Regions from separate parts of the Homo sapiens genome. Here region 1 is linked to region 2. The links come from fine-mapping of genetic effects on gene expression. A gene starts in region 2. The other region holds a variant in brackets. All regions are shown on one strand. Distances are from middle to middle. Region 1 overlaps ZBTB3 (zinc finger and BTB domain containing 3). Region 2 holds the start of WDR74 (WD repeat domain 74).

Region 1 (5,371 bases), 90 kb before region 2:
CTAGGTGTGAGGTGCCATTCCCGGCCTCAAGTGGAGGTTTGATAACAACTGGCAAAAGGAGGATTCAGTGTTAGACTAGAAATTAGATGAGCTGATCCCCAGGAGCCTATGGTTCCTTGAATCCCTGAATGGGAGCATTAAGACCAGTGGAAATGAGAAAGAATTATTGATCACATCTCTACAAATGGGCATAAACTGTTCCTACCATTCAGTAGATAAACTGAGGCCACAGGCTGGGTATGGTGGCTTATTCCTGTAATCCCAGCCACCGCTGCACTCCAGCCTGGGTGACAGAGGGAGACTCTGTCTAAAAAAAAAATCAAACTAAAAAAAAAATAATAAATAAAATGAGGCTGGGTGCGGTGGTTCACACCTATAATGCCAGCACTTTGGGAGGCCGAGGCGGGGCGGATCTGAGGTCGGGAGTTCCAGACCAGCCTGACCAACATGGAGAAACCCCGTCTCTACTAAAAATACAAAAAAAATTAACCAGGCGTGGTGGCGCAGCCTGTAATTCCAGCTACTAGGGAGGCTGAGGCAGGAGAATCGCTTGAACCCAGGAGGCGGAGGTTGCAGTGAGCCGAGATTGCACTGAGCCAAGATCATGCCATTGTACTCTGGCCTGGGCAACAAGAGTGAAATTCCGTCAAAAAATAGTAATAATAACGAGGCCACAGTGGCTGTAACTGTGATAGCTACTGCTTTACATATCTTGCAGGCTGGGCATGATGGCTCATGCCTGAAATCCCAGCACTTTGGGAGGCCAAGGCAGGTGGATCGCTTGAGCCCAGGAGTTTGAGACCAGCCTGAGCAACAGCGCGAAACGTCATCTCCACAAAAGATACAAAAATTAGCCATGCGTGATAGTGCATGCCTGTAGTTCCAGCTGCTTGGGAGCTAGAGGGGTTGAGGCTGCAGTGAGTCGTGATAGTGCCACTGCACTCCAGCCTCGGAAACAGAGAGACCTTGTCTCAAAATAAATAAATAAATTAATTAATTAAAATATTGCAAATTCCTGACTGCCACCTGCAAGAAAACATGCCCTTTATGCTGGATATTGAAAGCAAATGCTTGCTTCTCAGGAGAATCTCACCAGGAACAGAACCTCTTTAGCTAAGTAGTACATGTGACCACAGTCTGATCAATACAATGGTTCCTGTGTTCCCCAGACTGTCTGGAGAGATCATCTACATCAAAATTGTCTACACATATAGACCATTTATTATGCCTTGATTTTAAGAACTGATGTTCTGAGACAACCAGGTTTTTTTTTTTCTGTTTTGTGTTTCTGTTGAAATTGAGATATTCAGACCGTAAAATCCACCCTTTTAAGGGCAACTGATTCATAAAGGCATTTTGATTTGATATTTACTCTAGGGAAGACTTTTGAAAAGGTGTTCTACCCAGCTAGAATAGCTTTTATTGTATTTATTTATATCTTGCCTTGTTTCATCAAGGAATTAAAGCAGTAACGTACTTGCATAAATAAAATTAGGAGCCATTTGAAAGATAAGCTAGAAGTTTATTTCAACACAAAGAATGTGAAAGAATGTAGAATTCATTCAGCAGAAAAATGTTAACCATCTTTTGCTTCCCATATGTCCTAGTTAAGGAGCTTTCTTTAGCCACATGGCTGCTCACCTTTCCTTCCTGTAACTCAAAAATAGTCACTTGCTGGTAAGGGTTCACAGTGCTGAATATGACACAGACTCAAAAAGAGAGAAGAATATTTACTTGTCATTTTCCCCCTTTTCTTTTTTTCTTTTTTGAGATGGAGTCTCGCACTGTCACCCAGGGTTGGAGTGCAATGGCGTGATCTCGGCTCACTGCAACCTCCGCCTCCCGGGTTCAAGCAATTCTCCTGCCTCAGCCTCCCGAGTAGCTGGGATTACAGACGCCTGCCACCACGCCCAGCTAATTTTTTGTATTTTTAGTAGAGATGGGGTTTCACTATGTTGGCCAGCCTGGTCTCCAACTCCTGACCTTGTGATCCGCCCGCCTCGGCCTCCCAAAGTGCTGGGATTACAGGCGTGAGCCACCGCGACCAGCGTATTTCTGTTTTCCTTCCTGCTTTATTTGCACTCATGTCCTTACGTACCAAGAAAAAGTTTGTAGGCAAACCTTTAGGCCCTCCTACAGCACAGGCGGGGCCAGACTCCTCACACATTCCCAGAGCTCTTTTTTGCCCCCATCCCATGATGGCACCCCAAACTCCCATTTCTTTGCTATCTCCACTGTCAGTAACCACCTGCGTGACCTTAGGTGAGTAACCTAAACCTCCCTAGACTGTTGTCGTCACACTTTTCAAGTGAGGGAGTTGGACTACATGAACTGTAAGATCCTCTCATCCTGAGTTTCTCGCTTTAGGTTTTGCAAGTACCCATCATTGCCACAGCACCTCAGACCCTCAACCTCCCACCACTAATCAGCCACTATGGGCCTTAGTGTTTCCTGCCTTCCAGTTTCTCATCTTCAAAGAAGTCAATTCATATCTACAACTTGAGGCAAAAATTTCAGATCATCAATACAGTACCTGTTCTATCAACAAAAGGTCTTTCAGTGGGGAAAGCAGAGGTAACAAGGCAACAAAGCCAAATACACAAAAGGACAGAAAAAGAAAACAACTTACAGTTCTTGGTTAACTAAGTTCAACTTTTCATTATTATTTTATAGTGACAGGCAGGCCTCACTATGTTGCCCAGGCTAATCTGTAACTCCTAGCCACAAGCGATCCTTCACCTCAGCCTCCCAAAGTGCTGGGAGAACAGGCATGAGCCACCCCAACAGCCCTTCAAACAATGTTGTT[T/G]TTTTTTTTTTTTTTGAGACAGAGTCTCACTCTTGTTGCCCAGGTTGGAATGCAATGATGCGATCTCGGCTCACTGCAACCTCCGCCTCCCAGGTTCAAGCAATTCTCCTGCCTCAACCTCCTGAGTAGCTGGGATTACAGGCACCCGCCACCAAGCCTGGATAATTTTTGTTTTCTTTTTTTTGAGGTGGAGTTTCGGTCTTGTCACCCAGGCTGAAGTGCAGTGGCGTGATCTCAGCTCACTGCAACCTCTACCTCCTGGGTTCAAATGATTCTCCTGCCTCAGCCTCCCAGGTAGCTGGGATTACAGGCGCCCACCACCACTCCTGGCTAATTTTTGTAGTTTTAGTAGAGACGGTTTCACCATGTTGGCCAGTCTGGTCTTGAACTCCTGACCTCAAGTGATCCGCCCGCATTGGCCTCCCAAAGTGCTGTAATTACAGGTGAGAGCCACCATACCTAGACAATTTTTTTTGTGTTTTTAGTAGAGATGGGGTTTCACCATGTTGGGCAGGCTGGTCACCTCGGCCTCCCAAAGTGTTGGTATTACAGGCATGAGCCACCACACCTGGAAGAAACAATGTTTTTAACCAGTATAGCAGGCAGGGTGTTTGCAGTGGCAAGCCAGGTTCAAATGCTGGCTTGCCCCTTAACTAGCCTCTGTGACCCTGAACAAGTTAACTTTGATTTCTAAGTCTCAGGTTTATGAACAACAACAAACAAAACAGGAAGTGGACCTCATACCTCCTAATGTTGTTGAGGATTAAATGAGTATTTATACGAAATGTCTGATAAAGCCCAGAAGACAGCTCGACTGCAATAATAAATCATAATTTTATAAGCTTCCTTAATTTCTATACTTCTCCTAAGTAAAGGCTACATCGCCCTCTGCCTGTCCCACTTTTTTCCTCATGAGCAGTCTGACCCCTACCCCTACCCCTACCCCAAGTACAGATGTAACATTCCAAAAAGAACTGAAGGAGAGCCGTGGCTCACGCCTGTAATCCCAGCACTTTGGGAGGCAGAGGCGGGCGGATCATGAGGTCAGGAGATCGAGACCATCCTGGCTAACACGGTGAAACCCTGTCTCTACTAAAAATACAAAAAATTAGCCGGGCTTGGTGGTGGGTGCCTGTAGTCCCAGCTACTAGGGAGGCTGAGGCAGGAGAATGGTGTGAACCAGGAAGGCGGAGCTGGCAGTGAGCCGAGATCGCGCCACTGCATTCCAGCCTGGGTGACAGAGAGACTCCGTCTCAAAAAAAAAAAAAAAAAAAAAAAAAAGAACTGCAGGAGAGGTATGAAAGCATGCAGGTTTTTAGAAGAAACCAGCCAACACCAGTTCAAAGAAATACCTTCATTGCTAGCTTTATGTTCCAGAACATACAGTGAGAAGCGATTACACCTCAGGAAAATTCCCAGTGCCCTTGGAGAGAGCTGACATAGGCTTTGCCCCATAAAGTCCTGCTTATCTGGCTGGGCAAAGAAAAGGGTAGGAGGCTGGGCATGGTGGCTCACGCCTTTAATCCCAGCACTTTTTAAGGCCAAGGTGGGCAGATCACCTGGGGTCAGGAATTTGAGACCAGCCTGGCCAACATGGTGAAACCCTGTCTCTACTAAAAATACAGGAATTAGCTGGGCGTGGTGGCGCGTTCCTGTAATCCCAGCTACTCAAGAGGCTGAGTTAAGAGAATCGCTTGAGGCCAGGCACGGTGGCTCAAGCCTGTAATCCCAGCACTTTGGGAGGCTGAGGCGGGTGGATCACGAGGTCAGGAGATCGAGACCATCCTGACTAACACGGTGAAACCCCGTCTCTACTAAAAAATACAAAAAATTAGGCGGGCGTGGTGGGCCAAGATCGCGCCACTGCACTCCAGCCTGGGGGACAGAGTGAGACTCTGTCTCAAAAAAAAAAAAAAAAAAAGGAATCGCTTGAACCTGGGAGGCAGAGGTTGCAGTGAGCTGAAATTGCGCCACTGCACTCCAGCCTCAGTGACAGAGCAAGACTCAAAAAAAAAAAGGCAGCTGGGCGCGGTGGCTCATGCCTGTAATCCCAGCACTGCGGGAGGTGGAGATGGGCGGATCACGAGGTCAGATCTGTCAGAAGATCGAGACCATCCTGGCTAACACGGTGAAACCCTGTCTCTACTAAAAATCAAAAAAAATTAGCCAGGCATGGTGATAGGCGCCTGTAGTCCCAGCTACTCGGGAGGCTGAGGCAGGAGAATGGCGTGAATCGGGGAGGCTGAGCTTGCAGTGAGCCGAGATCGCGCCACTGCACTCCAGTCTGGGTGACAGAGTGAGACTCTGTCTCAAAAAAATAAAAGATTAAAAAAAAAAAAGGGTAGGAACTTTCAGCCTGGGCAGAGCCTTTATTCTTGTCACCCAGCAGGGGTGATAAGGTGCCACCAACCTTCTGAGCTGCCATCTAAGGATGGTAAGAGCAGCCTAGCATCAGCTCATGCTCCCTTAGATGTTAGTTTTTGGGGCCAATACAAAATCTTTAGGTGGCCCTCCACCACTGCTGCTCTGTCTGTCTGCTGTTGGGGAGCCAGGGAGAGGCTGCAC
Region 2 (5,304 bases):
TGAGTTTCAGGCACTAAATGTCAGTCTCTTGCTTAAAATATCCCTCCCGAGAAGTCCAAGCAAGTCTCTCCCCAGGATCTGCACAGCCTGCGCCTATGTTCTTTCTCACACCTGCCAACCCTCCCTAGCTGGGTTCGGGCTCTGTATCGACTTGCCTGACCTGTGGCAAAAGTCTCCCAGTTGCTGTCTCCAATCCATCCTCCATACTCCTACAGGCTCCCAGTGCTGACTATGGTACTTCCTATTCAAAAACTGATAACTTGGCCAGGCACAGTGGCTCACGCCTATAATCCCAGCACTTTGGGAGGCCAAGGCAGGCAGATCACCTGAGGTCAGGAGTTCCAGACCAGCCTGGCCAACATATAGTGAAATCTTGTCTCTACTAAAAAATACAAAAATTAGCTGGGTGTGGTGGTACATGCCTGTAGTCCTAGCTACTTGGGAAGTTGAGGCAGGAGAATCGCCTGAACCAGGGAGGTGGAGGTTGCAGTGAGCCGAGATCATGCCACTGCACTTCAGCCTCAGTGACAGAGCAAGACTCCGTCTCTCAGAAAAACAAAAACAATAAATGAATAACTCACCAACACCAATAAAAGTGCACATCTCTCAACCTAGCACTTAAAGCCCTTTACATTTAATCCCAACCTAATATAGTGTTCATCTTGTATTAAAATGCTTCCTTGGCCGGGTGCAGTGGTTCACGCCTGTAATCCCAGCATTTTGGGAGGCTGAGGTGGGCGGATTGCCTGAGGTCAGGAGTTCCAGACTAGCCTGGCCAACATAGTGAAACCCTGTCTCTAATAAAAATACAAAAAAAACTTAGCTGGGCGTGGTGGCGGATGCCTGTAATCCCAGCTACTCAGGAGGCTGAGGCAAGAGAATCGCTTGAGCCTGGGAGGCAGAAGTTGCAGTGAGCCGAGACTGTGCCACTGCACTCCAGCCTGGGCAACAGAGTGAGACTCCGTATATAAAAAAAAAACAAAAAACAAAAAAAAAAAAACGCTTCCTTGTTATCAACTTCCAAATCAAATGCTATTTATCCTATTTATGTACCCTGTAGCATGCCTCCAGTCCTTGGCCTCTCCCAGGCAGTACCCTCTTTCTAGAATACCCTTATCCCCTTCTCCACCAGTCAAAATTCTACCCATCCCTCAAGAACCAGTTCAGACATCCAGTCCCCCCCACAGGCTTTCCAGACCTCACCTGTCAGAATTACCACCACCAAACCTATGCAGCCTGCTTCACAGCCCTCTTTCATCATCTTTGGAAGAAAGCAAGGCCAGTCATCCAACCACTTAGCACCTTCCTAATCTTTGCTTTCAGAGCTACATCACCTTGTTGGTGGTTGAGCTCAAGTTGAGCCCAGGAGTTTGAGACTGGCCTGGGCACACAGTGAGACCCCATCTCTATAAAAAACTTAAAAATTTAGCTGGGCAGGGTGACACCTGCCTGTGGTCCCAGGTACTCAGGAGGTTGAGGCGGGAGGATCGTTTGACCCCGGGAGGTTGAGGCTGTAGTGAGCCATGAATGCACCACTGCACTCAAGCCTAGGTGACACAGTGAGGCTCTGTCTCAAAAAATATAAATGAATTAATAATGAATTAATGAATGCATGCTTAAAACTTTTTTTGTTGTTTTTTTTGAGATGGAGTCTTGCTCTGTTTCACAGACTGGAGTGCACTGGTGCGATCTCTGCTCACTGCAACCTCTGCGGGACGGATTCAAGCGATTCTCCAGCCTCGGCCTCCCAAGTAGCTGGGATTACAGGCATGAGCCACCACACCCGGATAATTTTTGTATTTTTTTAGTAGAGAAGGGGTTTTACCGTGCTGGCCAGGCTGGTCTTGAACTCCTGACCTCAAGTGATCCACCTATCTCGGCCTTCCAAAGTGCTGGGATGACAGGCATGAGCCACCACACCCAGCCTTGCTTAAAACTATTAAATGACAAGCAGGCACAGTGGCTCACGCCTGTAATCCCAGCACTTTGGGAGTCCGAGGCAGGTGGATCACCTGAGGTCAGGAGTTCGAGACCAGCCTAGCCAATACGGTGAAACCCCGTCTCTACTAAAGATACAAAAATAGCCGCGCGTGGTGGCAGACGCCTGTAATCCCAGGTACTTGGGAGGCTGAGGCAGGAGTATCGCTTGAACCCGGGAGGCGGAGGTTGCAGTGAGCCGAGATCGCGCCACTGCACTCCAGCCTGGGCAACAAGAGCGAAAACTCCGTCTCCAAAAAAAAAAAAAACAAAAAACAAACACACACACACACAAAACTATTAAATGACTTGCCCATGGTTACTTAGAGGATTATAATGGAGTCAGGTGAAAAACCTTAGAGGATGAGAACTTTTTGAAGGCAGAAATTTTACCGGCAGCCCCTGTACTTCTCCCAGTGCCTGGAATTCAGTAGGTGTTCAATAAATGTGTGTTACAGGTATGAACTACATAAGGCAGAAACCCAGGTCCCTGTCACCCATTCAAAGCCGTGTCACTAAGAGTTTGCCTGTCGCCATCATTCCAGTATCCTCAGGGAGCATCAACGCTCTCCCTTCGGCCCTGAGTTTAGCGAGGGGATTGGTCTTACCCGTCGGCCTGGGCGAGGCCACGGAACATGCCCTCCCCGCCCGGGCAGTGTCTCTGACCCTGGAATATGCCATCCTCGGTGCTGAAGTGCTTCACCGTCCTGTCCGCGCAGCCCACCAGCATCTGCGGCAAAGAAGGGCAAGATGGCGAGGAGAGCGAGGCTGCTGCGCCCCAGGCCCCCAGCTCCGGCCCGACCAGGGGCCACTCACCTGGGTCTCGCCGCCGGTGCCCCAACACAGGGCGCTCACTGCCTCCTCGCGCCGCGGCTGTCCTCCGGCCGTGAAGTTCGCCGCCTGTTTTCGCTGAAGATTTACCCCTGAGAGACGAAGGCGTCAGTCACGCCAGGGGCGCGAGTGCACCCCTGCACTTCCCGACGCCCGAGCCTGCCACCCACCTTTCAAGATCCCAGTCTCGGTGCCGACCCACACATGGTTCCAGCGTGCAGCAGCAGCCGCCATGACAAAGCCTGGAGGCAGACAGTTCACACTTCCGGCGCAGCGTGTGCGTCACCAGCGGGCGTCGAGTCCGATGCAGCGCAGTGTAGTTGCTGGAAGTTTGAAGAGCCGAAACAGTAAAGCTTCCATGCTTGTTTTGCTTTACGAAAATGAAACCAGGAGGTGCTTGTTTATGTAGATCGGAAGAATACATTGATCATTTTGCACTTGGGGGTGAAAAGCACCTTTCCTGGACTGCGTGGCCGGATCAAGCCAGCCCTAGTCTGTCTCCCGGCTCCATTATGTAATATGTGTTCTGGACTGTTAGACAAGAAACAACAAACGATTTAAGAAACGATTTAAGAAACACTTTAGAAACGATTCAAATCATTAATGATGTGTGGGGCTTCGTTCTGGAATATAAGTCACGAAAGAAAGATGGGAAAAGGAAACCGACGATTTTTTTTTTCTTTTGAGAGAACTTCGCCCTTGTTGCCCAGGCTGGAGTGCAATGGCGCGATCTCCTCTCACCTCAACCTCCGCCTCCCGGGTTCAAGCGATTCTTCTGCCTCAGCCTCCCAAGTAGCTGGGATTACAGCTGGTATTACTAAACCACCGCGCCCGGCCTCGTTTACTCTTCAAGAGGCGGACAGCGAGGCGCGGTGGCTCACGCCTGTAATCCCAGCACTTTGGGAGGCCGAGGCGGGCGGATCATGAGGTCAGGAGATCGAGACCATCTTGGCTAACACGGTGAATCCCCGTCTCTACTAAACATACAAAAACAAAACTAGCCGGGCGTGGTGGCGGGCGCCTGTAGTCCCAGCTACTCCGGAGGCTGAGGCAGGAGAATGGCGTGAACCCGGGAGGAGGAGCTTGCAGTGAGCCGAGATTGCGCCACTGCACTCCAGCCTGGGCGTCAGAGACTCCGTCTCAAAAAAAAAAAACAAAAACAACTAAAAGTACTCTGTGCTATGCTACATGAGAAACGCAGAGAAAGTCATCGCTCAGTAGAAATACAGTAATAGCGCATGCGTAAATAGGAGAGGGAAGTCGCTACTTTACCTAGAGATTAACACAGAAAAGCAACAAATTACCAGTTTACAAGTAAACCCTTTATCTAACGCGAAGATTTATTTATTTTTTGAGATGGAATCTTGCTCTGTCTCTCAGGCTAGAGCGCCCGCCACCAGGCCTGATTCACTTTTCTTTTGGTTTTTTAGTGAAGACGGGATTTTTCACACCATGTTAGTCAGGCTGGAATTACCCAATCCGCCCGCCCCAACCTCCCGAAGTGCTAGGATTTCACGCTTGAAACCCCGAGCGCGACCTAGGTTTAACACATCAAACGCGAAACCAGGCCGGGCGCGGTGGCTCACGCCTGTAATCCCACCACTTTGGGAGGCCGAGGCGGGCGGATCACGAGCTCAGGAGATCGAGACCATCCTGGTTAACACGTTGTGAAACCCTGTCTCCACTAAAAATACAAAACAGGCCGGGCGCGGTGGCTCACGCCTGTATTCCCAGCACTTTGGGAGGCTGAAGCGGGCGGATCACAAGGTCAAGAGATGGAGACCACCCTGGCCAACATGGTGAAACCCCGTCTCTATTAAAAGTATAAAAATTCGCTGGGCGTGGTGGCGGGCGCCTGTAGTCCCAGCCACTCGGGAGGCTGATGCAGGAGAATCGCATGAACCCGGGAGGCGGATGTTGCAGTGAGCTGAGATCATGCCATTGCACTCTAGCCTGGGCGACAGAGCAAGACGACGTCTCAAAAAAAATAAATAAGAAATAAAAATGGAAAACATTAGCCGGGGGTGGTGGCAAGCGCTCAATAGTTCCAACTACCCCAGAGGCTGAAGTATGAAGATTGCTGAAGACCACATGGAGATACTACGCTCCGTGCTCAGTTATAAAACAAAACCTTCTCTCAACAAGACACTCAAACACGCGTCATTCAACACACTAGCGATAAAAACACCTAATCCAACTCAAACAACAAGAACATAACTATTTAGCTTGTACCCTAACTGATCGAAATCTTCCATTAAACAACGGTTGTTCTCTCCCCGAAGGGAGAGTGCACCGTTCCTGGAAGTACTGCAATACCAGGTCGATGCGTGGAGTGGACGGAGCAAGCTCCTATTCCATCTCCTATTTCCAAAAATCCATTTAATATATTGTCCTCGGATAGAGGACGTATCAGATATTAAACTGATAAGAACAGATACTACACTTGATCTTAGCCAAAAGGCCGAGAAGCGATACCTTTACTTCGGTCGCCTCGGC

Evidence for each region.
Region 1: its variant is fine-mapped to the expression of WDR74 in whole blood (TOPMed, PIP above 0.99).

Annotation. Positions count from the first base shown.
Region 1 is chr11:62,746,818-62,752,188 of GRCh38, forward strand. It overlaps ZBTB3 (zinc finger and BTB domain containing 3), which reads right to left. Exons shown (of 2, transcript NM_001370809.1): 2 at 4,146-5,371. The coding sequence ends at 5,273. Among named protein-coding and RNA genes, the nearest start is that of ZBTB3, 4.7 kb to the right of the region's middle. The variant T/G (reference allele first, on the strand shown) is at 2,807.
Region 2 is chr11:62,836,529-62,841,832 of GRCh38, forward strand. It overlaps WDR74 (WD repeat domain 74), which reads right to left and starts at 3,062. Exons shown (of 11, transcript NM_001369450.1): 1 at 2,979-3,062; 2 at 2,794-2,900; 3 at 2,586-2,707. The coding sequence starts at 3,042. RNU2-2 (RNA, U2 small nuclear 2) reads right to left here and starts at 5,281; the gene lies at 5,091-5,281. RefSeq lists enhancers at 2,486-2,615, 2,726-2,845, 2,906-3,245, 3,316-3,455, 4,086-4,255 and 2 more and silencers at 4,386-4,435, 5,156-5,275.